4 linked regions of the Homo sapiens genome follow. The protein of the gene in region 3 interacts with the protein of the main gene of each other region in a pairwise test. Each region holds a gene or a part of one and is shown on either strand. Other genes may lie near its edges. The genes, in order: OIP5, MSX2, YTHDF1 and KRTAP8-1.

Region 1 (6,852 bases), on a different chromosome or scaffold from region 3:
TCAGGACATTCTTTTTGATTAAGTAGAAACTTTGGCCTTTTCCTCTTGGATTCGGGATGGCTGCTGCAATTACAGTCATTACATCTATTGATGATAGCATCCTAAACATGAAGGAAAAGGATATGGAGAGTATGGGAACACAAGAAAATTCCCCCTTTTCATCAGCATAAATTTTTTTTTTTTTTTTGAGACAGAGTCTTGCTCTGTCACCCAAGTTGGAACACAGTGGTGTGATCTCAGCTCATTGCAACCTCCGCCTCCCAGGTTCAAGTGATTCTCCTGCCTTGCCTCCCAAGCAGATGGGACCACAGGTGCGCTCCACCACAGCCTGCTAATTTTTGTATTTTTATTAGAAATGGGGTTTTACCATGTTTGCCAGGCTGGTCTCAAACTCCTGACCTCAGGTGATCCCCCCGCCTCGGCCTCCCAAAGTGCTGGGATTACACGCATAAGCCACTGCGCCCCGCCAGCATAAATTTTCTTAATCTTTTTTTTATTCTTTTTTTTTTTTTTTTTGAGACAGGGTCTCACTGTCACACAGGCTGGAGCGATCATGGTTCACTGCAGCCTCAACCTTTTGGGTTCAGGTGATCCTCCCAACTCAGCCTCCCAAGTAGCTGGGACTACAGGCATGCCACCACATCTGGCTAATTTTTGTATTTTTTGTAGAGATGGGGTTTCGCTGGCCAGGCATGTTGGCTCACAGCTGTAATCCCAGCACTTTGGGAGGCTGAGGCAGGCGGATCACTTGAGGTCAGGAATTCAAGACCAGCCTGTCCAATATGGTGAAACCCTGTCTCTGCTAAAAATACAAAAATTAGCTGGGCATGATGGTGGGCACCTGTAATCCCAACTGCTTGGGAGGCTGAGGCAGAAGAATTGCTTGAACCTGGAAGGCGGAGGTTGCAGTGAGCCGAGATCTCGCCATTGCACTTCAGCCTGGGTGACAGAGTAAGACTCTGTCTCAAAAAAAAAAAAAAGAGATGGAGTTTCGCTATGTTGCCCAGGCTGGTCTCAAATTTCTGATGTCAAGCCATCTGCCTGCCTCAGCCTCCCAAAGTGCTGGGATTATAGGTGTGAGCCAGCACACCCATCCCATTTTCTTACCCTTGTTGGCCAGAACTATGTCACATGATCACCTCATCTGAGAAAGCAAATATGTAACAGTAGGCTCATGGCAAAAATCTGGATTCTGTTGGCAATAAAGAAGTGAGGAAGGCTGGGCTCGGCTCACGCCTATAATCCCAGCACTTTGGGAGGCCCAGGCAGGGGGATCACCTGAGGTCAGGAGTTCGAGACCAGCCTCGCCAACATGGTGAAACCCCATCTCTACTAAAAATACAAAAATTAGCTGGGCGTGGTGGCGCAAGCCTGTAATCCCAGCTACTCGGGAGGCTGCGGCAGGAGAATCGCTTGAACCCAGGAGGCAGAGGTTGCAGTGAGCTGAGATTGTACCACTGCACTCTAGTCTGGGCAACAGAGCGAGACTCCATCTCAAAAAAAAAAAGTGAGGAACAGCTACTGGGAATAGGTGACCAACACTATGTCTCATACTGGGATTACTTTCTTTCAAACTGTGCTACAGGATCCTACTGATGAAGTGTAAAGCTTATAATCATCGTAATTATTCATATGAGCCTGGTTTTTGTCTTTAATTTACCCTGAGATAATTTTGTCTCTGGTGGGATGCGGCAGAGATCCTCTCCAATTTGTTTATTTTTGAATTTGTTTTTCCAAGAAAATGCAGTCATCCTTCAGTATCTGTGGTTCCAGGACCTCACCAGATACCAAAATCCATGGACACTCAAGTTTCTGATATTAAGTGGTGTAATATTTGCATATTACTTTTGGATATCCTCCTTTTTAAAGTATAAAAGTATATATTTTATACTTTAAAATAATCTCCAGATTACTTATGACAGCTAACGTAATGTAAATGCTATGTACATTACAAATTTACATAGGAAATTTACAAAGTTGTTGTAATGTTAAGGGAATGATGACAAGAAAAAGAGTGTACCTGTTCAGTACAGACACAATCCAGTTTTTTTTTCCTGAATATTTTTAGTCTGTGGTTGTTTGAATCCATGGATGCTATACCCATGGATATGGTGGGCCAACTGTAACATCATGAGTCTTGAAATGAAAATCATTAAGAAGCCAGGCTTTTTTTGACACATACTTTCTTTAGAAGGTAAGTTTGGTTCTTTTATAATCTTAACCATGGTATGACACTAATATTTTTCTTTTTTCCTATCTAGCTATCTCTTAAAAACAAAAGCCATAGTAAATGCATCAGAGATGGATATTCAAAATGTTCCTCTATCAGAAAAGATTGCAGAGGTAAAATTTCATGATGGTTGTATGCTTTTTTAAAATACAGACAACTCTTGATAACTTCTACCAATGAACTTGGGGATGATGAAATGGCATGATGCTCAATAATCCTTTTTACTTGATTTGACCTTCCCTATTGAATTTGTAATGAAAAACAAAATACTAAAACCACACTGTAAGGTATAGTTCAGGAAGAAAGGAAAAGCTGCTCAACTGCTGCACTCCTGCATTCTCCTTTGTGCTGGGAATGGATATCATCATCTTGCCATAGAGGTGTCTTCTTTGCAAATACCTTGTAATTGCTCAACTGTCTCAGACATAAGAGTGATGAAACAGTTATTAAGAATTCCTGGCCGGGCGTGGTGGCTCACGCCTGTAATCCCAGCACTTTGGTAGGCCAAGGCGAGCAGAACATGAGGTCAGGAGATGGAGACCATCCTGGCTAACACAGTGAAACCCCATCTCTATTACAAATACAAAAAATTAGCCGGGCGTGGTGGCACGTGCCTGTAGTCCCAGCTACTCGGGAGGCAGAGGCAGGAGAATTGCTTGAACTGGGAGGTGGAGGTTGCAGTGAGCTGAGATTGCGCCACTGCATTCCAGCCTGGGCAACAGAGCAAGACTCTGTCTCAAAAAAAAAAAAAAAAAAAATTTAGCCGGTCATGGTGGTGGGCGCCTGTAATCCCAGCTACTTAGGAGACTGAGGCAGGAGAATCGCTTGAACCCAGGTGGTGGAGGTTGCAGTGAGCCGAGACTGCGCCACTGCACTCCAGCCTGGGCAACAGAGCGAGACTGCGTCTCAAAAAAAAATAATTCTTGCCTGGGCGTGGTGGCTCACGCCTGTAATCCCAGCACTTTGGGAGGCTGAGGCGGATGGATAACCCGAGATCAGTAGTTCGAGACCAGCCTGACCAACATGGAGAAACCCTGTCTCTACTAAAAATACAAAATTAGCCGGGCGTGGTGGCACATGCCTGTAATCCCAGCTACTTGGGAGGTTGAGACAGGAGAAGCACTTGAACCTGCGAGATAGAGGTTGTTGTGAGGCAAGATCATGCCATTGCACTCTAGCCTGAGCAACAAGAGTGAAAATCTGTCTCAAAAAAAAAAAAAAGAAAAAAAGAAGGCTGGGCATGGTGGCTTATGCCTGTAATCCCAGCACTTTGGGAGGCTGAGGCAGGCAGATCACCTCAGGTCGGGAGTTTGAGACCAGCCTGACCAACATGGAGAAATCCCATCTCTACTAAAAATACAAAATTAGCCGGGCGTGTTGGCGCATGCCTATAATCCCAGCTTTTCGGGAGGCTGAGGCAGGAGAATCGCTTGAACCTGGGAGGCAGAGGTTGCAGTGAGCCGAGAGCTTGCCATTGAGAGCGAAACTCTGTGTGGAAAAAAAAAAAAAGAATTCTTATTGGCTGGGTGCGGTGGCTCACACCTGTAATCCCAGCACTTTGAGAAGCCGAGGTGGGTGGATCATGAGGTCAGGAGTTCAGCCTGGCCAAGATGGTGAAACCCCGTCTCTACTAAAACTAGAAAAATTAGCCAGGCGCAGTGGCAGGCGCCTATAATCCCAGCCCCAGCTACTCAGGAGGCTGAAGCAGGAGAATCGCTTGGACCTGGATGGCAGAGGTTGCAGTGAGCCAAGATCACGCCATTGCATTCTAGCCTGGGTGACAGTGAGAATCTATTTCAAAAATAATAATAATAATAATTGGTATGGGAAATGACTTTGGAATGGCAGTATGAGGAGTTCCATGGATAGGATCCAGGAAGAATATTATAAAGGAAACAACCATCTTAAGTCTGTGGAAATTTTCTTCAAGGTATATGGCAAATACAGAAACATTTATTTGTTTATTTATTTTTGAGACAAAGTCTCACTCTGCCTCCCAGGCTGGAATGCAGTGGCACAGTCTTGGGTCACTGCAACCCCCTCCTCCCGGGTTCAAGCGATTCTCCCACATGGAGAATCCTTGTCTCTACTAAAAATACTAAAAAGCCTCCTGAGTACCTGGGACTACAGGCGCGCACTACCGTGCCCAGATAATTTTTGTATTTTTAGTAGAGACGGGGTTTTACCATCTCTGCTAAAAATGATGGCCAGGCTGTTCTCGAACTTCCGAGCTCAGGTGACCCACCCGCCTCGGCCTACCAAACTGCTGGGATTACAGGTGTGAGTGCCAGGTTCAAGTGCTTCTGCTTCAGCCTCCCCAGTAGCTGGGAACCCAGTTGCCCTTGCCCCCAGCTTGCTTGTAGGGTGGAAATCCTATGCTGGGAGGGGCGAATGGAGATTATCAGAAGCCACTGCTCTTGCCCTGCTGAGTAACAACACTAAATTTCATGCTAAATATAGCTGTAAGAACTCTTAAAAATTACCTAATTGCAACAGTTATCTGTTCTAAACCTAATAACCAGAGTTAACTTTGCAGACCATTAGTAGAATGTTAAAGTCAGAGAGGCATTTGTTACTGTTAACAAAGTGTTAAAAGAAAAGCTAAATTCTTGCCACTGGAAAAGGAGGAGAAGCCTGTCTCCACAAAGCACTGTGACCAGACTTTATTCATCTTCACAGTAGCAGTGCTGCTCAGCAATGTTTTGTCTTTTTTCACACGAAACTTTACATCTGAGGATCTTTTTTTTTTTTTTTTTTGAGACGGAGTCTCGCTCTGTCACCCAGGCTGGAATGCAGTGGCACGATCTTGGCTCACTGCAAGCTCTGCCTCCTGGGTTCACTCATTCTCTTGCCTCAGCCTCCTGAGTAGCTGGGACTACAGGCGCCCGCCACCGTGCCCAGCTAATTTTGTTTTTGTATTTTTAGTAGAGATGGGGTTTCACCGTGTTAGCCAGGATGGTCTTGATCTCCTGACCTCGTGATCTGCCCAACTTAGCCTCCCAAAGTGCTGGGGTTAGAGGCGTGAGCCACTGCGCCTGGCCACATCTGAAGATCTTACTGTGCGCTACGTTGTTGTATAAAGTTCTTCCAGAATTAGAAGAAATTTATTCCTCAAATGCATTTAGACATTGCCAGCTCCCAATTACTAGATATAAACTAGCTTAAATTTGAAATGGTGTTTGTGACCAGCAAATTGACAGTTAAGCTTAAAATGCCCAGATATCCATCTTGGTGTGGTGGCTCATGTCTGTAATTCCAGCACTTTGGGAGGATCACTGACTGCCAGGAGTTCAACACCAGCCTGGGCAACAAAGCAAGACCCCCATCTCTACAAAGAAAATTTAAAACACATGACTGTAGTCCTAGCTAATCAGGAGGCTGAAGTGGGAGGATCACTTGAGAGCAGGAGCTTGAGGCTGCAGTGAACTATGAATGTGCCACTGTACTCCAGCTCAGGCAACAGAGTGAGACCCTGTCTCTTAAAATAAGTAAAAATAAAAAAAGATGCCCTGATATCTATATATTTCTCTTCCTAGCTGAAAGAGAAGATAGTGCTAACGCACAATCGCTTAAAATCACTAATGAAGATTCTGAGTGAAGTGACTCCTGACCAGTCCAAGCCAGAAAACTGATCCTGTACCAAAGCTTGAGTGTCAGGTTCAGGCTTTATTGCTGTCTTCAACAACAGGTGCTGCTTAGTCATTTCTTGAAAAAGATTGGCTTCAAGAATGGAGGGGAAATGCAGTTTCTATTTACCTTTAGGCTGATTTTCCAAATTATTTGTGAAGCTGTTTTTAGAAGATGAGAGACTAAGGATTCTTCTCTTTTATAGCTATTTGCCTTAAGAACTTACTTTAGATTCTTATTGAATTCATAATACTTATCTCTGAAAATGTCTTTGACTGTAAATTTAGGAATTAAGATGCAGAGTCCCATGTGTCCTCTGATCTAAAGTTGCATGGTTGGTCTGAAAATAGAGTTGGGCTTAATGTTGACTTCTATTACTCCTGCATGGAGCAGTTGTTATGAATACTAATACATCACTTTTTAACTTCTGTAAAATACAGATCATAATATTCTATAGGTAATGTTTAATAAATTGCCTGAATAATATACAATTTGTCTTTTTCAGTTGTAAACTGAGGTTAACAGAGAAATAATGAAAGCAATGATAAAACGAAACAGTTACCAAAGTACTATTTTCTATAATTTTGTTTTATGTAGCACTTTGAGTAACTTATCAAAATATTAATTTAATATATATTTGTAAAGTGTTAGACTAGGTGCTGGGGATAAAAGGTAAGCAAAAATAGACACACTATCCTTAGAATTTATAATCTAGTCAGAGAGGGACATTCAAATAATCACATAAAGATACATAAAATTACAGGCCTGGCGCAGTGGCTCACATCTATAATTCCAGATTTTCGGAGGCCGAGGCAGTGGATCACTTGAGGTCAGGAGTTCAAGACCAGCCTCGCCAACGTGGTGAAACCTCGTCTCTACTAAAAATACAAAAATTAGCCAGGCATGGTGGTGCGCACCTGTAATCCCAGCTACTCAGGAACCTGAGGCAGAAGAATTGCTTGAACCCAGCAGGTAGAGGCTGCAGTCAGCCGAGA
Region 2 (7,626 bases), on a different chromosome or scaffold from region 3:
AAGCCAGTTCAGCTCTAGATCTTGAAGCCAGTTTAGCTCTAGGAGATCCGAAGCAGAGCTGTCTCCTGGGTCAGTGCCTGCTTCCAGCACACTCAGCGCTACTCGGTATTTTGTAAGGCTTGTCACCTAGTTCTCACCAGCAACCCTGTGGATGGGCATTAGCATGCCTATTTTCTGAAAGGGGAAACCAAGACCCAGCAAGGTGACGGCGGAAAACGGTGAGAAGTAGGGCCTGGATTTGAATATAGAACTACAGAAGGCCGACCCACAGCTCCTCCCCTCACACCTGCTGCCTCCAGAACTAGATGTCCCCATGAACTCGCCATCCCCTCTCCAGGCTGTGGGACCTGCAAGGAGATGCAGCTTCTTTTACCTCTACCTCCCCCGCCCCCATCCTTGTGATGGTCTTCTTCCAGGGACACCGTGTTGAATTAGGTTTTACCACAGCTGAAGTCAGGCCAACCTCTCCCCTCTCTGCGCCTGGACGACTTCATCTGTGGAATGGGGAGAAAGCTCAGGCTTTAGGGGGCCTTCAGTAATCTGCATCGTGCTTTTGGCAAAAGCTCCTTCTCTCCAGCCCCGGCTCAAACCCGGGCTCGGTCCTGACTCCGGACCTTAGGGGGCGGGAACAGGAGAACAGGAAAGAACAAGCTTGGGCTTGCAGAGCTTCGCAAGCAAGACGTTTGTACCCCCAAAACCTCCAGCTGTGACCCTGAATATCTATCTACCCGACTTCCTGGGCTGTGTAACTCGGAAAGTGATCTCTCTAGACACCAGAGGACCGAACCTTCCCCATTCTCACTCTGCAACAAGCCAGTAAGAAAAATGAGCTCAGAGACGAGTAGCCTTTTGCCCGAAGTCACACAGCCAATGTTTTGGGGGGTGGGTGAGCGGTGTTGTGGAATTCCTGGCGGATGTTGGCGCCCGCGGGTCTGCCTGCTTCTGATACCCGGGCTCGGTAGAATAGGCCGCTAACGAGCTCCCATTAGGAGGAATTGTCACTCCTCTGGGAGCGAGCTTGTCCCATTAGGGCGAATTGTCATTCCTCCTGGAGCGAGGTTGTCCCGGCTCCGCGCAGGCTGAGTGCTGGGGCCGAGAGCAATTAACGCGGCTCCGGCGCGGGCAGCCGCCTCTGCCCCGGGCAGCGGGGGCGGGGCAGGGCGGGGGCGGGGCGCCCGGCGCGGCTGGAGCCGGTCACCCGGCGCAGCCCCTTCCCCCGGAGCCCGCCTTTCATCTCCCCGCGCCTGGCGCCTGCCCGAAGCCCAGGCCCGTCTACAGCCCCCTTCGCTGCCCCTCCCCCGCCCCCTTCTAGCCGCTGGGGTTACAAACTAGCCTTCGGCCCTCGGGGTTACAAACGCTGCGTTCTGCGCGCAGTGCTCCACAGTTTGCAAGGAGTGTTTTCTCCTTGGGACTCGCAGCGCGCGTACGCGGTTGCTTCAAGAAGGGGCCTGGCGGGTGTAACGCGCCCCGGGGAGCGCGGGAAGGTGCAGGGTTGAGGATCTACGCTCAGAGGCCTCAGCCGCGCGGGAGGGATTCCTGTGTCTCCCACTTCTACCTGCGCGACCTTGGGCAGAGTATTAGCGCTTCCCAGCCTTAGGCATTCATCTGTGAAATGGGAAAAATAATCTGCTAGCAGCGGTGTGTTGGAAGAAACCAATAAGATCCTGGATAGGTCCAGGCACTAAAGCATCCTTCAGAGTTGATGCTTCCTGGTGGCTGAGTTCCTATTGGAACCCCGCTTTTTTGCTAGCAAATATTGCAGCTACGCATACATCCCTGGGAACTAACATTTACTGAGTGCCTTCTACGTGACAAAGCCAGTTCTCCGCTAGATCACTGTCCCCAAACCTGGACACTTCTCAGACCGAGCCAAATTCTCAGCCCCGGAAATTTTACAAAGAACCTACCGTAAGCTCTGGGATGCACCTTATCTTTCGATCCTTGGCAGGGAGAAAGCATTCGATACATTGTGATTGCTTTTGATATACAATAATGTTTTAACCTGGACCTCCTATGCCTTCTAGTTACTTTAGGTAGCCTATTGAATTTAATCACCACCAGAGTCATCTCAGGTAAGGATTATTATCTCTCATTTTGGAGATAAAAAAAAAAACGCTGGCTGGAGGAAGCAATTTAGAGTGCCCAAGGTCACTCCGCCAGGAAAAGGTGAATAAAACGTTCTGAAAACGCAGCCAAAGTTGGATAAAATGCAGACTTGGGGCTTTCCATAAAGGGCTAGCGTTGTGTTGCGGTTCCAGCCCTTTCCCAGCAGAAGTGAGCCCCTTTCCCGATTTGTCTCCACCTCAGCAGAGAGCTGGGGAGGGAACTGGCAAAGACCCCAGGAGCAGGCTGGTTCCTCTCTCAGCATCTTTCCTATTCATGGTCAGAGCTTGGCACTCTGATTTTGAACACCGGTAATTTTTTTATCTCTGTTTTCCTATTCCTGGCTTTGTAATTTATTTGTCTCTGCCTGGACTTCAGTATTCCAGAGTAGTAAAGGGGACCTGGCTTTTCCTTTCCCAGAGAAGTTCATTAAAATAAAGGAGTTCCAGTGGTATTGATTTTTGTTTCGAATTTCTCAGGAATGAGCCTGTGTGCCTTATAGCTGACAGATATTAACAAGGAGTTTTCAGGAATAATTATAAAACATTGGCTGCGTTTAGCCTAACTGAAAGTTGAACCCTTTTGTACACTTTGGCAGCTGAGGGCTAAACGAATTTCAGATTTGCTTCCAAAATATATAGCCTGCACCTTGCCTTGTACATCTAGAAGGTACAGAAGTTAATCTGGATTTACCTGTACTGTATTTGAGATGCATATCAAATCAACTATCACCAGGTATGACTCAAGGGGAAAACGCATACATCTCCAGGTAGTTTTCATAGTTTTTTTTTTTTTAACTTTTTTGAGCCTCCAGTTGGTTAAGAAGAAATGTGCATATTCTTTATAGTGAGAGAGAAACTCAGAAGTTTTAGAAGACTGTGTTTAGGACTTACTTACTCTTTTACTTTTTCAGGACCATCTTTAATCAAACTGAATTAACTGGCCTGTGCAGACTGTCTTTATCCTCTAAGATTCAGGTAATACTTTTTTCCAGTTCTCTCCGGCCAGCACAGTTTCACTTCAGGGAAAGGTTTGGGGTGAAGCAAACAGTGCCTCAGAGAGGTACATTGGGAAGGGTACATAAGGGTCTGTAGGTCTAGGGGTCAAGTTTCTAATACTCCTGAACTGGGAGGTAGCCTCCAAGCCTTGGTCATTTAAATAATTAAAAACAATGTCTCTCCCTTCCAATGCTCTAGGGAATGTTTAGCAAGCATCTGCTGTAGGCGAGGTCCTGAACTGGGTGACTTCCTATTTACCTCGTCAGTCGCAGGATAATCGTTCAGATATAGGAAAAGACAGCCGCAGCCTGAAAAAAGTCTTTTGAAGCTAACCTTCTAGGTCAGGCATTTTGAGGACCAGCGGAGAGATCCGAGGCCTCTAATCCTCGAAGCTCGCTCTCCCCTTCCCCAGGCTGAGACAGTCATCACTGAGGCTTTGGAAAGGAATTACCGAGGGTATAATTTGGGGTGGGGTGGAGACATCTATGTTTTTATAAAAAACCAGGTGCCATGAATAAAAATGTGCTTCCCAAAATGATATGTAGGCCTGGGGTGTGCAAACTTGGAAGCCGGTATTTCTGAGACTTGCAAACGAGAGGGAGGCACTAGATATTGGCGACTTTTCCTCCTCCCCCCCACCCCCATTACCCTCCGAGGCAAACACTGGCATTCAAACACGCACGACAAACACAGGCTCAAACAAACTCATGAATGCACACTTGCACTGTCTTGAGAAAAAGGTCGGATCCGGATCGCGCTCAGAAAGGAGGTTCAGGAGACAAGTACAGAGATTTCAACTTTCTAAAAGTGCGCTGGATTTGCTTTCTAGTGAGAGAGATGGGGACAACTGATTTAAATTCTTCACTCCGAACCATTTGGGAGAGAGGCACTCCTGACCACTTCTCGGGCTCCTTCCGGCCCCTCTTTTCCAGGGGAAAGAGTTGTAATAATAACAGTGGGCGCTTTTGAGCGCTGGCTAGTGGCGAGTTACTCTTCTAAGTGCATACATTTCTTTCACAGGGATACTGGCCTGTGAGTTTCAGCACCGACTTTCTGGAACTGTAAAGTAAGCCAATTTTGACGCATAGTAGGGGCTTCGTAAATGTTTCTGCAATGCTGTTTGCGAATCTTGAACTTATTCTGGCGGTAGAGGGAGAGTGGGATGGGCGCAGGGTCCCTTTTAAAGAAGGGTCAAAAGAGAGAAGAAATGGGACTCGGCGAACTTCCGCTTTAAATAATCGCTCTTAATTAGGTCTCGGGCTTTTCAGTTTCGGCGTGATTATAACCCTTCAGGGATCGCCTAATAACAACTCTGCTGACTGCTCCTGTAATTAACTCCTAATTTATTTCAAACAGGAAAAAAAAAAAAAAAAAAAAAAAGGAGGGGGGGCAGCCCCTTCGGGAAGAGCCAATCAGGGGCGAGCGTCTCTGGCGTCAGCGCCAGGCCCGGCGCGGATTGGCGGCGCGCGTCTCCCACTTCCCCTCGGAGGAAAGGCTCAGCTCCCAGCGCGCCCCTCCCGTCTCCGCAGCAAAAAAGTTTGAGTCGCCGCTGCCGGGTTGCCAGCGGAGTCGCGCGTCGGGAGCTACGTAGGGCAGAGAAGTCATGGCTTCTCCGTCCAAAGGCAATGACTTGTTTTCGCCCGACGAGGAGGGCCCAGCAGTGGTGGCCGGACCAGGCCCGGGGCCTGGGGGCGCCGAGGGGGCCGCGGAGGAGCGCCGCGTCAAGGTCTCCAGCCTGCCCTTCAGCGTGGAGGCGCTCATGTCCGACAAGAAGCCGCCCAAGGAGGCGTCCCCGCTGCCGGCCGAAAGCGCCTCGGCCGGGGCCACCCTGCGGCCACTGCTGCTGTCGGGGCACGGCGCTCGGGAAGCGCACAGCCCCGGGCCGCTGGTGAAGCCCTTCGAGACCGCCTCGGTCAAGTCGGAAAATTCAGAAGATGGAGCGGCGTGGATGCAGGAACCCGGCCGATATTCGCCGCCGCCAAGTGAGTGCGCGCCGGGGCAGGAGTAGGAGGTAGCGCGGGGTACTGGAGGGAGCGGGGGGCGGGTGTTCCAGGGCTGAGGGTACCGAGACCCTTCTGCGTGCGCTACACTCCCGGGAAAGCAAGCCCAGGGCCTCTGGACTCCTGGGTGCCCGGGGCGTTCGGCGCGCCCAGTGCGCCGTCCGCATCCAAGACACCCTCTGGGTAATAACCGCGCTGTGTGTGTCTGAGACTCCCTCGACATACAGATTGTTTTTTCAAGAGCGAACCCCAGCTGGGTTTACGGGGTCGCTCGGTGGTCCGTTTCTACAGCCCTCGGCCCTGCGCTCTGGCCACTTGGCTTGTTTTTGTTTCACTGTTCCCCGGAGTCTCTGCCTGGGGAGTGAAGGAGTTGGATCCATGTTCAGTGAGCACTTGGATGTACCAGGAACGAGACAGGTTCAAAACTCAACCCTGAGAGTTGTGCCCCCATTTTAAAGATGAGCTAACTGGGCTTAGCCAGACATTGAGGAGAAACCATTTTCTTTCGTGAGTCCCGCGGGTGTCGAAGCCGGATCCCACGAAGGGATGGTGGCACCAGGGATGGTGGCATCAGAGTCTGGTGCGGGGAGGAAATGTCTCTCTGTGGTCTCCGCAGCCAGCACCTCCCCGGCAAGGTTCTGAGCTTCGCCGGGAGCGGGCTGGGGCCAGAAGCGCACGGGCTCTTCTTGGCTCACAGTAATAATTAACCGCATTCCAGCAGGGCTTGAGAGTTTGCAGAGTGATGTTCACTAGCTCACCAGATCGAGATCCTCACTAGAACCCCCAAGTGTAGACACTGGACTTGTGACTACCCTATTTTTCAGACGTGGACGCTGAGGCTTTTAAAGAAGACGGCCTTTGCTTGTCCCAGGTTACCAACAACCACTGATTGGCCAGGGGCACCTGTTGCCCACGCCCTGCTCCTCTGTTTGATATGCCCTGACCACTTTTGCGTCCTCTCCCCAGAGAGACTAGGTAGAGATCCGCACCTGCACCCCACTTGAGAATTGAGGCTGCAGAGAATTCTCCGCTTCAGCATCCATTTTTGGTCCCTGAGTCCTTTTACAATTTGGAGACGTCATCCTTTACAGCCTCTTTTACTTTTATCTCTTGGCTTTTATGGTTTCTCTACCCCCTAATTTCCCACCACGCCATCCCCTACCTGTAGGAAAGGTGAGGGTGGGGGCTGTGGAGGGACTTTCTCCAAAGCTGAGAGAGATCCTTTCACTATTTACATCATTCAGCCCTCAAGACTAGACGCACTGTATTTTGTTAACAAAACAAGGCCATATACCCAGGCGTCAGTGGCTGTCCCCTCTGGCAGTCTCTCTCCACCCTGTTAGAAACTCTGAAAGATTCAAAGGGCGAGGAGATTAAGGGACTCAAAGAATTTAAACTCAAGTTTGGATAGTGCTTTATAGCACTTTTCACCGTATTATCTTATCTCCTCTGTAGGGCAGCAGCCGGCCTCTTAACAGATGAGGACATTTCAGCAAAGTTCAGAGAGGAATCGGCAGTTTGGGCCTGACCAAAAAAAAAAAAAAAAAAAAGCTGGGGACCATTTAATGATCACCTACCAGGTGGCAGACAGACAGGGCTCTGGGTACTCTTAAAATTTTAGTACTGTGGACCACATTGAGGGATTAGTGTTACTTACCCACTTTATCGACAGTGAGGTAGAGGCTCAGAAAATTAAAAGACTTAATTTGTTTAACAAATATTGAGTACATAGCCTACGCCTATGCCCAGCCAATGATACAGGCCTTAAATGGAGTAGTGTCCAGAGGTTAGGAATCCTGCCATCCTTTAGGCCTGTGGGTCTGGAAAGGCAATGACTACTACCCCTCTAAACATCTCTGCCCTGTGCTCAAGCTTCCCTGCTCTGGGTAAGGCAACCTCGGGCCCAGGCTGTGACCTTCCCATGAAAAGAACCAGAAATTCTGAGAACCGAGTTTATAACCTGCACATTCTGCACATGTATCCCGGAACTTAAAGTAAAAAAAAACAAAAAAACAAAAAAAAAACACCATGAAGAATTGTTGGTGCTTTGGGCCTGGAGGTGGCAGCGGGAACCCTGTGGTCAGAGTAGTGGGTCCTGAGAATGCCAGGCGACGGAGCCTGGGGCGAGAGGGAGCTACCCGCCCGGGCCTGATTTTGTTATTTGGAGGAAGTAGGATAAACGCTGTTTTGCCTTATATAATCGCATCCTTCCTCTGGCTGGTTTAAAATTAGGTGGGGGTGGAGGGATGGGGAGTGTTGCATTGGGAGGAAGCCTCATAGCTTCATGGTTTTGATACACATGTGCGATCCCGGTCACCTGGATTTCATAATTCAAATGTAACCCGAAGGACCAGCTGGAATTACCCTGCCCAGGCGCACAGTGCTTCAAAACCCCACGTAGAGCCAGGAGCAAGAGTATATACACGCTAGGAACTTGGTATCTGAGCTGAGACACCTGAGTCCTCCTGAGGGCCCGGCCTAGTTTAGAAAGGGCGAGAATTTTGCAGGTCTCTTGAGAGTCTCTG
Region 3 (7,762 bases):
GAGTTAAAATTGAAACCAGGCTGGGCGCGGTGCCTCACGCCTATAATCCCAGCACTCTGGGAGGCCGAGGCGGGTGGATCACCTGAGGTCAGGAGTTTGAGACCAGCCTGGCCAACATGGTGAAACCCCGTCTCTACTAAAAATACAAAAATTAGCTAGACGTGGTAGTGGGTGCCTGCAATTCCAGCTACTCCCGAGGCTGAGGCAGGAGGAATGCTTGAACCCGGGAGGCAGAGGCTGCAGCAGGCTGAGATCACGCCATTGCGCTCCAGCCTGGGTGGCAAGAGTGAGACGCTGTCTCAAAAAAAGGACTGAAACCCAGGCGGCCTCTGGCTCCACAGTCGCTCCACAGCCCAGCTCTTAGCTGCCTCCCCAGACCACAATTCCAATCATCCAGAGCTAAGAATAACCAGGAAGCTTCAGAAACACACACACACCTCCACTGCGTCAAAGGCAAGACACACCACTGACCCACAAACACTAGAGCCAACTAGACCTGTTTGCATCCCAGCCCCAGTGGGATGCCGCCTCCTCCACAGGGAAAATCATTTTCACCCCACTGATGCCCAAGGTTAACAGGAGTCACATCTTCATGAGCAGTCTATCATTCCTAATACTTTATAGTCTGCTGCTTTGTTGTTTAGGATAATTTAAAAATCAGAAATGACAGTAAAGGTACAAAACAATTAAAACCAACTTAAAAACAAATATATGCTAACAAAATAAACTCACCTGATTTGACTGTCCAGTAAGGTAGGGCTCAAAGTCATTGTCATGAACTGTATCCTTCTGATGTAACGAACCATTTTGTACTAGAACAAAAAGTTGCAAAATATTACCCTCAAATTTTAAAAGATTACTTTTAAGCTTGGAAGGCAAAGTTAGCAAAGTCTATTTCCATCTATTTCTAGCAGAAATTATGCTTTAATTTTAAAAGGAGTACAACCAGTATAGAACTGATGTTTATACAACTAATTAGAAGGGGGACGGGAAACTTTCAATAATTTAGGATAAATTTTAAATAAAGGCTTAATCGTAATTTGGTGAGATTAACCAAATCAAGTGTTAACACATAATGCAAGGAACACATAACCAGGGTGAAAACTGACATGGTCTAAGAAGACTTATGTGTGGCAAAAAGAAGTGGAGCCTCCAAAAGCCCAAATGCAGAATGTATGCCCAAACGTATGGAGAACGGAGGGAAGAAAACTTAGGAGGGAAGGGGCTGCAACTGAAGGACTGTTGGGAGCTATTATCTGACTCTCCACAGTGAACCCCAAATATCTGAGACAGGTCTCAGTTAATTTAGAAAATTTATTTTGCCAAGGTTAAGGACACACCCATGATACAACCTCAGGAGGTCTTGACAACATGTGCCCAAGGTAGTCGGGGGACAGCTTAGTTTTATACATTTTAGGGAGACATGAGAACCATCAATGTAAGATGTACATTGGTTTGGTCCGGAGAGGCGGGACAACTTGAAGCAGGGAGGGGGCTTCCAGGTCATAGGTAGATAAGAGACAAACGGCTGCATTCTTTCGAGTTTCTGATTAGCCTTTCCAAAGGAAGCAATCAGATAAGCATTTATCTCAGTGAGCAGGAATGACTCTGAGTTCTGTCCTTTGTCCACCAGGAATTTCCTTGTGGGCAAACTGTGGGGGAAGTATGTAACTTTTTTTGTCTTAGAAGCTATCTTTTTCAGGAATAGAATGGGAGGCAGGTTTGCCCTCAGCAGTTCTCAGCGTAGCTTTCTCCCTTTGGCTCAGTGATTTGGGTGCCCCAAGACTGGTTTTCCTTTTACACCACTTACCTTCCCACTGTTATTATGCTCAGCCAGAAAAAGCAAGCAAAGGTAAATAAAGTGCTGGGCCTTTTCCAATCTTAAAACACGATGAACCGTATTTGGTTACACCTGAGCTGACACACAAACTGGCTAAAAAAGTGTTCCAAGTAAACGTGAAGTGTCACTTAACAGTTTTCACATGAGTGCGCTCTGAGGGTTTATCCCAAGCCATAATGTCACAGGAGATGCTAACAGACTTGGAAAACGGGCTGCAACTACCGGGGATGTGGAGCTTAGCCTGCAGAACCTTGGACTGCCCCTCTCCTAGAGCAGCCCCTGCTGGGCGGAAAAAGGCAAGTCGCTCAACCCCTGCGGCCATGTCCACCCGGCTCTCCTACCTCCCCTTCCCCAAAGCAAATCCATGATCATGCGGTGGGGAGAGACGGGCCCAAACTACTCTGAGCAATCATTTATTCACTTCTTGAGAAGCCCCTGTCTTCGACCTGTCAAATCTCCCAGAATCGTCGCACAACCTCAAGTTTTATCTCCCTGAAGCTGGCGGAAGAGAGAAAGTTTCCGGTTCCAGACGCAGCTTCCTGGACCGTTCCTTCCCCGTCCTCCTCCACTCCAGCCCGCGCCGGCCGTCCCGGGACTCCGCTCACCTTTATTATCTTGTCCTTTTGTTCTCTGCACCGCCGCAGGCCGGGACGTGGGGTACACACAACCCGGGGGAAGAGGGAAACACAAAGTTATTCACCAGAGAACTGGTCTCCAACGGGCCGCGAGCTCCGCCGGCCCCGACGCGCGGTCACGTGCGACCCCGGCCCCGAGACCCCGGTCCCGCCTGGGCCCGGCCTCCGCGACCCCGGGCTCTGCGTTCCAGCCCCAGGACCTCAACCCAGACCCCGCGCCTCGGCCCCGGCCGCGGCCCCTGTAACCCGGCCCCGCTACCTGGGTGTCCACGCTGGTGGCCGACATGCTTCATGAACAACTAGACGCGGGGCCGGGGCGCCCGCCGGCTCGGGCCTCCCCTAGAGGCCGGGCCTGTCACCCTAGCTCGCGCGGCCCCGGGCCCCGCCGCCAATTCCCCGGGCGCCGGCCGGGCGGCGGCGGCGGCTGCTGGGCGCGCGGGCCCCTGGCGAGGCGGCAGCGGCGGTGAGCCCGGGACGCGGACGCACTGAGGAGGCGTCGACTCCAATGGCGGCGGCGGCGGCGACAGCAGCGGCGACGGCGGCGGCAGGGGACGAGACTGCGCGGCGTCAGCGTGCACGCGGGGCAGGCCGGGAGCGCCGCGCCGGGCCGCCACACTTCGCGCCTGCGCGCTCCCGTCTTACGGGATGGATTTCGCTCTCAGGTCCCAGTCTCGTGCGGCGGGGCGGGGACCGCAGCCGGCTGGGCGGGGAAGCCCTGAGCCGGGGAAGTCACGTGGGGCGTGTCCGGAGGCGCCGCGGGGCCTGGCGGGAAGGGGCTGGCGGGCTGCTGCCAGGTGTACAGCCGCCCACACACACCCCGGCCACAGCCGCACCCCCGACGCGCTACCGGCACTGAGGCCTCTGTAGTTTTCCCCAAGGTCCGAAGACTAAACGCTGTTCTGGTCCGACAGCTGGGCTACGGGTCTGTCCGGGGTCGGTCTGCCCTTCCCCCGCGCGCAAACACCTGCCCGCCCAGAGCTCCGAGCCCCCGCGTGTTCCAGGTCGCGCGCCTCGGCCCTTGCCGCGGGACCTGCGGGCTTTGTTCGCTTTGCGGCCCTGGCCTTCAGCCGCAGCGGAGCCCTGGGCCCGGTCCCGGAGGTCAGCTGTTGTGTGGATGCACCCCTGGACCTGCGAGAGGCTCGCCGGCTTATAACCAAGTTCTCATGTTAGATTCTTGACCCCGATTTCATCACCAGGAGGAAAAGCAGTGCTCTGTGCCCCAGCCTAGGCCGGGCCAGGGGACTTGTCATCTTTGTTCGAGGATGGACAGCCCCTTCTTAGCAGCAACTGTGCAAAGAGAGCCCAGTTCTCAGTTCCTAACCCCTCAGCATCCCCAACCTGGACGCCCTTCTGGTCAAGGTGTTGAATTTCGCTCCCTGCAGCCAGTATCCAATCCTGCCACCCTTGTGGCTAACTCCCTACAGAGGCTTCCAGGTTGATATTTTTCTTTCCAGCTCTGGCAGCTGTAACATCTTCACGTGGCCTGGATCTGGGTCCTGCTAAAGGAGAAAGACCTGGAATGGGGTGTCAGGCAGGTTGACGTCAAATGAGTGTTTTCCACAAAGTGGGCCCGGGCAGATGCGCTAAGCAGGGTGAACAGTGACAGCAGGGACGGCAATGGAGTCCCAAGACGGCTCCAAGCCTGGACATCCGCATCAGTGGGGTAGCAGACAGCCTCTCACACTGCTGCAGGAGGAGGTGGAAACTGCCCCCAGCAGGCCGGTCAGCCACAGAGAGGACTGCTGCTCCAAGTTGCTCCAGGTCTCCCTGGAGCCCTGCCTCGCCTAAAGCTGGGGAAAGCGGGCTGGGCTTGTTTCCCTGGAACAGAGCTGGGGGATGTCTGGTGCCCTGAGGATGAATCTGGATCCCCTGGGACTTTGATGTGTTTGGGCCATGGGCAGACATCTCAGGCCAGGATGAAATCTGTGCATTTGGGGTACATCCGAAAATGAACAGCACGTTTCCAGGATGGTGGCCCACATGGAGAAGATGTGTGGGGATTGTAGGGACAGTGGGGTCCCTGGGGGCACCCTGCCACCTGCTTCTGTGTGATAAGGCCTGCGCATCCTGGGCAGGCCCTGAGTGCCTGCTTCCCAGGACACTGAACTGTTTGGCGGCCAAGACTGCAGCAAGGGGGTGTCTGGGTGGTCAGAGTAGACACTCGGACTCTTGGAGCCCCTGTCTGTCTTCTCACCCAGCTCCCATCCCTGGGCCAGGACGGTGCAGTGGTCACCACTGGAGTTCAGAGCCTCACAGCCAGTTACAGGGCCTTCAGCCTCAGGCCTACTTTCCTCCTCCGTGGTGGGTTAATTACTCCCCTTTCACAGGATGAGTGTGTGGAAGAAACTGGGTATGCAGCCCTTGGCGTCAGGCCAGGGCTCTGTCAACACTGGCTGTTACCTGCTGCCTTCACCCACAAATGCCCAGCCAGTCACAGGAGGCAGCACTGGCCCTGCGGGAAGTGGCCACTCCGAGCTTAGGGGCCTTCTTAGATGGCTGAGTGCCGGCAATGCAGGACCCTGGAGGTGTTTCAGTTTCCTGGAGCTATCTCAACAAAGTACCCGGAACTGGGGGGCTTAAAATAACGGCAATTTATTCTCTCCCAGTTCTGGAGGCCAGAAGTCTCAGATCAGTATTGCTGGGCTGAAGTGGAGACAGAAGCTCCTTCCAGGGCCCTCGGGGAGGATCCTAGCCTCCTCCAGCCTCCGGTGGAGGCCGCAGCCCTTCCTGGTCTTTCCTCCTCGCCTCCGTCACCTCATGGCCTTTTCCTCTGTGCCTGTGTCTCTTCTTATAAGGACACTCATCTGGATTTAGAGCCCACCCTAATCCAGGATAACCTCATCGTCTTGTGATTATATCTGCAAAGAACCTATTTCTAAATAAAGTCACGCAGGTACCAGGTGGACATGAGTTTTGGGGGTACACTCTTCAGCTCACTACAGAGATCACTGGGGAGGCCTCACAGTGATGCCTATGGAGAGATTTTGGAGGGTGACTCCTGGGGCTGAGTAGGTTCTACTCACAAATGTAGATGGAAGGAGAGGCCCCCACAGTGAGGCCTGAGGAGGCACCACCATGCCAGCCTAGCCCCACTGGCCAGGGAAGAGGCTGGCAGGATCCCACAGCCACTGCCCGGACCCACCCAGGCTTTTGCTGTGAACTCCAGAAGGCTCCATGCTGACCCTGACATGGAAGGAGACTGGGGGCTGCCCAGGGGCAGGACAGGTCTGGTTGGCGGGAACAGGGGGCCCTAAAGTGAATTGAATGCAGGGGGTGTGGCACCAGCAGGGGGTGCTGAGGTCCCCAGGCCAGCTCTGGGGGGAAAGCCTTTATCTTGGCCAGGCCTGAGGACCTGGGAGGGTGTCACAGAAAACCAGGAGTTGAGCTGCCTGTAACCTTGGAGGGCCACGTCCACTGCCCAGCCTGCCCAGGTTCACACCCCAGCCCAGCTCTCGGCCAGGAAAAGGGAGGTCACCCAGCACCGAATGTCAGGGGACAACTGTCTCTCCCTCACAGGGAGCAGGCAGCTCCTCATGTCATGGATGGAAACGGATCAGAGGGCTTTGGCCACTCCTCTGGGTGGCCCAGCGGTCTTGAGACAAAGCCTGCCATTTCTAAGCCTGTGCCGTCAATGACAGACAAGAGCCCATCCCCTGTGGGCCGTCTGCCTTCAGACGGGAACCTTCTTGCTCGGGGAACCTGTTGCTCATCCAAGAGCCCTTCCTAGCAGTACCCGCTCCTGGCAGCACCCTCAAGTGGTATGGGATTGTCTAAACATGACTAGCATTAGGAAGGTTTGGGTTTTTATTTATTTGAAAGTCACACAGGCGCATGGTTAAAAAGCTATCTTTGCACTCAAAGGATATAAGGTGGGAAGCAAAAACCACCACCCCCAAACCCCTCAGAGAGGGAGCCCTCCAGATGCCTGCCTGTGCATGCAAGCATGAGTCTCTGTCTCCACTATCTGCCCTTGCATCTCACGTGTTGGGAAACCGCACTTTGGGGATCCACAGTGCTGCTGAGTATCAACACCCGCCGTCCACCCACCTCGTCCCTCTCCAGGGAGGGCATGGGCTCCAGCCTCATCCAGTGAGTGTCCTGGCCCCAACACACATGCACACGTGTGCGAAGACACCTGGCAGGAGGCTCCTGCCCATGGAATCACTGGGCCAAAGGCGCTTACACTGGCCATTGTGCTGATGTTGCCAGATGGCCCCCAAGGAGGCTGTACCAAAACCCCCAGCCAAGAGGAGGTTTCTGAGCTGGGTGCAGGGTCCAAACGCTGTGGGCCCTGAATTCAGATGATCCCTGGCTGAACCAAACCCCTCCTGAGTGCTGGACACAGCTCACCCTGCAGCTGGCCTCTGGGGGCTCTCAGTGAAGATACCCATCTGTCTCGATGGACACCAGCCACTCACGCAGCTGCCCTCTCCACGAATGCTGTCTCAGGTCCTCATCTCCTCCCTCACCTCAACCCCGGGCTCATCCCCAGTCGGCAGGCCTCCTTCCAAAACCGCTCCCCACCGTACTCCCTGGCGGGGCTGCTTTGTCCTTGATGAAACTGGCTCCTGCTCTCTTGGTTCCTCCTGCCTCCCTGTGCCTTGGGAGTGCACTGACATGGAGTGTGCTGACGTGGAGTGTGTGGAGTGCGCTGACGTGGAGTGCGCTGATGAGTGTGTGGAGTGGGCTGACATGGAGTGGGCTGGCATGGAGTGTGTGGAGTGGGCTGACGTGGAGTGCGCTGACGAGTGTGTGGAGTGCGCTGACGTGGAGTGGGCTGGCGTGGAGTGTGTGGAGTGGGCTGGCGTGGAGTGTGTGGAGTGGGCTGACATGGAGGAGTGTGTGGAGTGCGCTGATGTGGAGTGTGGGGAGTGGGCTGACGTGGAGTGTGTGGAGTGCGCTGACGTGGAGTGCGCTGACGTGCCTCCCATGATGCACGGCACTTTACAGTTTTCAAACCTTCTCTCTCTAAGCTTCTCATTGGACCATTCACCCCACAAGTGTGAACTGAGCACATACTTATTATGTGTATGGGGCGTGGGGGCACGAGGTGGCCCCTGCCCAGCAGAGCTCCTGGTGCTGGGACCTTCCATAGCCCTACAAAGGTTCATCTAGCTTCACTGAGCACCTGCTGTTCTCCACACACGGGGACAGAACAGGCCAGGTGCTGCTCCTGCAACCCAGATGGGAGGCAGAGGTAGATGGGTCACTGTAGATCTGAGCTGTGATGGAGGCAGGACAGAGAGGAGCCCAGAGACTCAGGATAGGCAGGCACTCACCAAATGAG
Region 4 (5,989 bases), on a different chromosome or scaffold from region 3:
CATTAGTTTGTCTTAGTAGGAATGTGTAATAAGATGAGAAAAAGCACTCTCCATAGTCGCATGCCTAATTGACCAAATTCCAATGAGAGAGTGTTGAATTGTCATATTGACTCATCAGTGATTTTTGATGGGAGAATCATACAATGTTTAGGGTGGCAAGTCCCAGGAAGTCAACTTGTCCCATTTTTCAGTCGGGTCACGCGAGGCCCGGAAAAATGATTTGCCTCAATCCTCACAGCAAGTGAGTAGCCAAGTTAGGTTTAGAATATTCTTTCATTAATTCATTCAACTGAAACTTATGGAAAACCTATATTACGCCCAGTAGTGAGTGAGGCAGTGAGGAATCAAGGCTGATTAAAAATACTATCTTGCTCTCCTGGAAATAAGCATGTTAATGAGGCAGACAGATACCCATCACACAAGTGAAGGTTATATAGGAACTACGATTAAGTCCTACAGATACGAGGAAGAGGTTGGCCTACTGTTATGCTACAGATGGGCTCCAGCTAATCAGGAATGGCAGAAAGGCCTCCCAAAGGAAGTGATTGAGCTGGCATGTGAAGGTTGCATGGGAGTTGATCAGAAGGAGAGGAAGGAAGAGAATTCCTCACAGAACAAACGGCATGTGTCAAAGCTTAAGAGTGAGAGGAGCATGCGAAGTTTGAAGAACTAAAAGACAGCAAAACTTAACGAAGAGAGAGTTGAGAACTTTTAGGTCAGTTTAAAGATTAAAAAATATTATCCTAAAAACAATAGGAGCAATTGAAACACTTTTTTTTCTTGTTTTATTTCTAAGACTGTTACTGATTTATTCATTTGTTATGTTGAGGTACATGCCTTCTATACCTAATTTGTTGAGAATTTTTATCATGAAGGATTGTTGAATTTTGTCAAATTCTTTCTCTGCATCGATTGAGATGAACAAATAATTTTTATCCTTCATCCTATTCATGTGTAAAGTATATTACACTGATTAATTTTTGTATGCTGAACCACTCTTGCTTATCAGAGGTAAATCTACTTGATCATGTGTATGATCTTTTTAATGTGCTTTTAAATTTGGTTTGCTAGTATTTTTGCATCTATGGTCATTAGGGATATTGTCCTATCATTTTATTTTCTCATAGTGTCCTTGTCTGACTGGTATTAGAGTAATGCTGGCCTCATAAAATGAGTTTGAAAGTGTTTCTTCCTCTTTAATTGCTTGAAGGACTTTGAGAAAGATTAGTATTAGCTCTTCTTAAATGTTTTATAGAATTCAATGGTGAAGCAATCTGGCTCTGGATTTTTCTTTGTTGGAAGATATTTTATTACTGATTCAATCTCATTATTTGTTATTGGTCTGTTAAGATTTCCTATTCATGATGTATTCTTGGTAGGTGGCACGTTTCTAGGAATTTGTCCATTTATTGGAGGTTATTGAATTATTTTGGCATATAATTGTTCACAGTAGTCTCTTATGATCTTTTATATTTTTGGAGTATGTTATAATATCTCTTCTTTTATTTCTGATTTTATTTGTCTTTTCCCTTGTTTTATTAGTCTAGCTAAAGGTTTGTCAATTTTGTTTATCTTTTAAAAAACCAACTCTTAGTTTTGTTGCTCTTTTCTGTTTTTCAGATTATATTTCAGTTATTTCTGCTTTGATCTTTATTCCTTTTTTCTTGGTAACTTTGGACTTAGTTTGTTCTTTTTCTTCTAGTTCCTTCAAATATAAAATTATGTTGTTTAGTTGAAATTCTAATTTTTCTTAATGTAGAGTTTATTGCTATAAACTTCTGTCTTAGAATTTTTGCTGCATTCCAAAATTTTGGTTTTTTTTTTCTGTTTTGTGTGTGTGTGTGTGTGTGTGTGTGTGTGTGTGTGTGTGTGTGTGTGGAGATATTTTTCATTCCTCATTTGACCCACTGGCTGTTCAGGAAATGTTTAAGTTCCTCATATTTGTGAATTTTCCAGTTTTCCTCCTGTTATTGATTTCTAGTTTCATACAATTATAGTTGAAAAAGATGCTTGATATGATTTCATTCTTCTTACATTTGTTAAGACTTATTTTGTGGCCTAACGTGTGATATACACTGGAGAATGTTCTGTGTGTGCTTGAGAAGAATGTGTATTCTGTTGCTGTTGGATGGACTATCTGTACACGTCTGTTAGGTCCATTTGGTCTAAGTTCAAGTACAATGTGTCATTATTGGTTTTCTTTTTGGATTACCCATTCATTGTTGAAAATGGGGTATTGAAGCTCTGTACTATAATTATATTTCTATCTATTTCTTTTTTCAGGTCTATTAATATTTGCTTTATATATTTAGGAGTTTAATTTTTTTGTGATTTTTTGAGCATCTCAACAAATACTTTTGTACTTAATTTTATATTTATTACATTGTATACTTTTTAAGAAAAAGGGCTTTCAGCATTGTATACTTTCAGGCTTTATGAAAACCTTGCTCTTTCTTTGATAAGCCTATTATCAGAATAAAGCTTTCATAGGCTCAATATAGGATTAACTTCGCTATTAATTTTTAAATGACTTGTTGATAAATGATATGTTTCCCTAAAATTTTCTTCTGTTAGAATTTTCTGTAGACTTTCTAGAGAAAATCCAAGCCATTCTCTGTAAATAGGGCTTAAGTTTTAAAAAAGACAACATATTTTAATTACTATTCATGTTCAGAGCTAGGTTTTGTGCTGCAGAAGGCAAAGCTAGCATCTTGTCAGATTGGGTAGGCGAATGGGAGAATTCTTTTAAATAGAGCAACATAATTGACCTTTGGCAATATTAATTCAAAAATTTTAAATTATCCATTATACAATGCTATTTTTTGTCTAATTTTTCTTTTTTCCCTAACATTACCAGCTTTTCTATCATGAAACACAGCAATGTGATGCCAGTAGAAATAGTATGTAAATCATTCTATGATTTTTAGGGAATGATCTGTGGTTGAATACCTTTATGTTTTGGGAATAAATCTAATTTCAATTCCCTGAACTTGTTTAGCTATAAGCCACATATCGTGTTTGAATTTTAATTACTGAATCCCCATAGGCAGCCATCCAGGTTTGCTCACGAAGCAGGGTACTGTAGGTGTTTTCATTCTCCAGAATGTGATTATTACGCATTGCATATCTGTATCAAAACATCTTATGTACTCTATAAATATATAAACCTACCATGCACTCACAAAAACTAAAAATAAAAAAATTTAGGCCAGGCGCGGTGGCCCACGCCTGTAATCCCAGCTCTTTGGGAGGCCGAGATGTGCAGATCACTTGAGGTCAGGAGTTCGAGACCAGCCTGGCCAACATGCTGAAACCCTGTCTCTACTAAAAATACAAAAATTAGCCTGGCGCAGTGGCATGCACCTGTAATCCCAGCTACTCGGGAGGCTGAGGCAGGAGACTCGCTTGAACCAAGGAGGTGGAGGTTGCAGTGAGTCCAGATTGCACCACTGCACTCCAGCCTGGGCAATAAAGCAAGACTCTGCCTCAAAAAAAAATTATATATATATCTATATTTAAAAAAAATGCCTCTGCTGTAATTAGTCTACTGCTGGCTAGAACACTGGCATGGTTTTGAATTTTCCAAGTGTCTCATCTTGTTCTTGGATTCAGCCTTTGATTCCTAGCTGCTGATAGCAGGGAGCAAAGTTACCTCTGGGTTATGAAGTAAAATCTGGGAGAGCTCATGTGTAATACATATCTGTTTTGTGGCCTTCTAGAATGATTCCTATTATCTCTGTGCCTATTTCTGTTCCATATGCCCTCTTTGGTATTTGTTCTGTAAGTTCTCTACTAAGTGCCACTGTAAGAAATCTTAATGCAGGTGTCTGAGAATAATATATCAGGTCTTACATGATCCAAGATAGTTTTGATCAGCCTTATCCCTCCTTTAACTCATGCTTGAGAACTGACTCTCTGTTTAGAAAGGAATAACATTCCTTCTTTATCCTGGGGTGCATGATCATTGTAAAAGTGAAATAACTGATTTCATGTTGTCATCTGGCCCTTTATAATATCATCACATTTGTCAGACAATCTAGTTTCATTAGATCTAAGAGAAAAAAAATTTTAAATCTTACAATAAATTTTTTAATTCATTTTTCTGTGTTTACCTTATTAGTTTCAATGTTTAGTTTGAAATATGTTTCAGGCCAAAAAATTAAATTTGTTTGACAATTCAGTACAAGGATTAATCCAAATACTCCGTTTTAAAATCTCAATACTATTAATTCAAGTAGTCTTCTAGAAATGTGATGTTAGGTATAGTTTAGGAGGGGACTATGATTAAGATTACACTTTTAACCAGTTTCCCAAACACGGTAGCTGTAGTAGAGGAAAAAAAAAAGACTCTTTCTCATGAGTTCCATTGCACTTGTCTTTCATATTCCAAAAAAGAGAATCCTTGAAGCAGGTGAATACTAAGACATACTTTAATTTTGAGAATTTTGAGATAGACTCACTATCCATTTGTTATTTTATATATTAATGTATTTAACACATATTTATTGAATTTCAACTGTGTGTTGTGGAAATTCAGAGAGCAAGAGGACTGCATAACAGCTAACAACCTCAGAATATTTCTTGATATTATATACCTGCTTACAGAGTTATATGGGGTCTATAAGACAGAGTGCTTTGAAGTCCTGGCAATAATTTTTTTTTTTTTAGGAAGGGAAATAATTTGTTTAAAGGCATCTTCTCCCTGTATTGCATCACACGAGAGCTTTCTTAAGCCACTGTAAAGACATCATAAGCAAGAGCAAAACAAGTTAATGAGCTTTTTAGAATGTAAATTGGTGTCAAGAATGAAAATGAGGGCTTTGTGTTTTTCACCACCCACCAGAGCTGGGATATATAAAGAAGGTTCTGAGACTAGGAATCCATCCCACTGAGGAAACGCACTCTGTTGCTACCTAAGCCCTCCACTCCCGACACCATGCTCTGCGACAACTTCCCCGGGGCTGTCTTCCCAGGATGCTACTGGGGCAGCTATGGCTACCCGCTGGGATATAGCGTTGGCTGTGGCTATGGCAGCACCTACTCTCCAGTGGGCTATGGCTTCGGCTATGGCTACAACGGCTGTGGGGCTTTCGGCTACAGGAGATACTCGCCATTTGCTCTCTACTGATTGGCTGAAATCCCCGAGGTGTAGCATCTTCTCTCCCTTGAAGGCTGAGCCCCACATCTCCAGGTTCCCCCCGTATCCACTCCTTCAGTCCTCATTTGCTCATCAACCTCAGAGACACTGCTTTCCAACTTACCTCGAGTCCCAGGGGAGGAAAATGAAAAAGCAGACGCTTCCTCAAGCTGCCTCCCCTGGCTGATGTTCTCTGGGACATTTTCGGAAATTTGACCTCCCACTTGTCATGAGCTACTTTTGAATTTTCCATGACACTCATGACTTGTGATGAAGTCATGGATATGTCTATCAAAATCTCAATAAATTTGTCTCAGCTGGTATAATATTCTCATGCTAGAGCGAAGTTTCCTTTCTTGGTGTGTGCATATTTTCTGTTACATGGGTGGTGGGGGGGAAGTGAATTTATTTTTCTCATGTGGGCATTAGGAACAGCCAGAAAGCAAAGAATTACTGATCCTGTGTGATAAGCAGGTAAGAGGGTGGGTTGCAGGTAATGACTTAAAAGGTTGCCTGTTTGAACCTTCTTTAAATTTTATGATGCCCACCTCCAACCCAATGGAGCACCATTTATTGCTCGGGGTCCCCTTCTCATCTCACTACTTCTGCTCCTCCGCAAGAAAACCCAACACAGGAGGAACTTTTTCAGTCACTTCCATGTTAGTCCAAATGAAATCCACTGTGTTCCCTTTCCCAGGGACTAAGGATTATAGACTAAAGTGCCATGCCCCCTAATGAAGGATGCTGGAGCATTGAGTAATAGAGAAGCCACAGACATCCTTTGGAAATCTGAGAGTTTTTAAGGTGAAGGGATAAATCCCCTATATCAAACCATCTAAGGTGTCTATTTTG

The links.
Region 1: the proteins of YTHDF1 (region 3) and OIP5 interact in binary tests that used the Homo sapiens proteins (3 or more experiments, as listed by UniProt).
Region 2: the proteins of YTHDF1 (region 3) and MSX2 interact in binary tests that used the Homo sapiens proteins (3 or more experiments, as listed by UniProt).
Region 4: the proteins of YTHDF1 (region 3) and KRTAP8-1 interact in binary tests that used the Homo sapiens proteins (3 or more experiments, as listed by UniProt).

Annotation. Positions count from the first base shown.
Region 1 is NC_000015.10:41,308,764-41,315,615, reverse strand, and holds the end of OIP5 (protein Mis18-beta), read left to right. Parts: intron 1-2,261; coding exon 2,262-2,343; exon of another isoform or gene 2,344-3,718; intron 3,719-5,766; coding exon 5,767-5,862; 3' UTR 5,863-6,343; downstream 6,344-6,852. UniProt on the Homo sapiens protein: Required for recruitment of CENPA to centromeres and normal chromosome segregation during mitosis.
Region 2 is NC_000005.10:174,719,956-174,727,581, forward strand, and holds the start of MSX2 (homeobox protein MSX-2), read left to right. Parts: upstream 1-4,626; 5' UTR 4,627-4,704; coding exon 4,705-5,083; coding exon of another isoform or gene 5,084-5,109; exon of another isoform or gene 5,110-5,112; intron 5,113-7,626. UniProt on the Homo sapiens protein: Acts as a transcriptional regulator in bone development. Represses the ALPL promoter activity and antagonizes the stimulatory effect of DLX5 on ALPL expression during osteoblast differentiation. Probable morphogenetic role.
Region 3 is NC_000020.11:63,213,132-63,220,893, forward strand, and holds the start of YTHDF1 (YTH domain-containing family protein 1), read right to left. Parts: upstream 3,001-7,762; 5' UTR 2,762-3,000; coding exon 2,735-2,761; intron 2,471-2,734; coding exon 2,446-2,470; intron 2,429-2,445; exon of another isoform or gene 2,317-2,428; intron 813-2,316; coding exon 733-812; intron 1-732.
Region 4 is NC_000021.9:30,812,168-30,818,156, reverse strand, and holds KRTAP8-1 (keratin-associated protein 8-1), read left to right. Parts: upstream 1-4,882; 5' UTR 4,883-4,936; coding exon 4,937-5,128; 3' UTR 5,129-5,460; downstream 5,461-5,989. UniProt on the Homo sapiens protein: In the hair cortex, hair keratin intermediate filaments are embedded in an interfilamentous matrix, consisting of hair keratin-associated proteins (KRTAP), which are essential for the formation of a rigid and resistant hair shaft through their extensive disulfide bond cross-linking with abundant cysteine residues of hair keratins.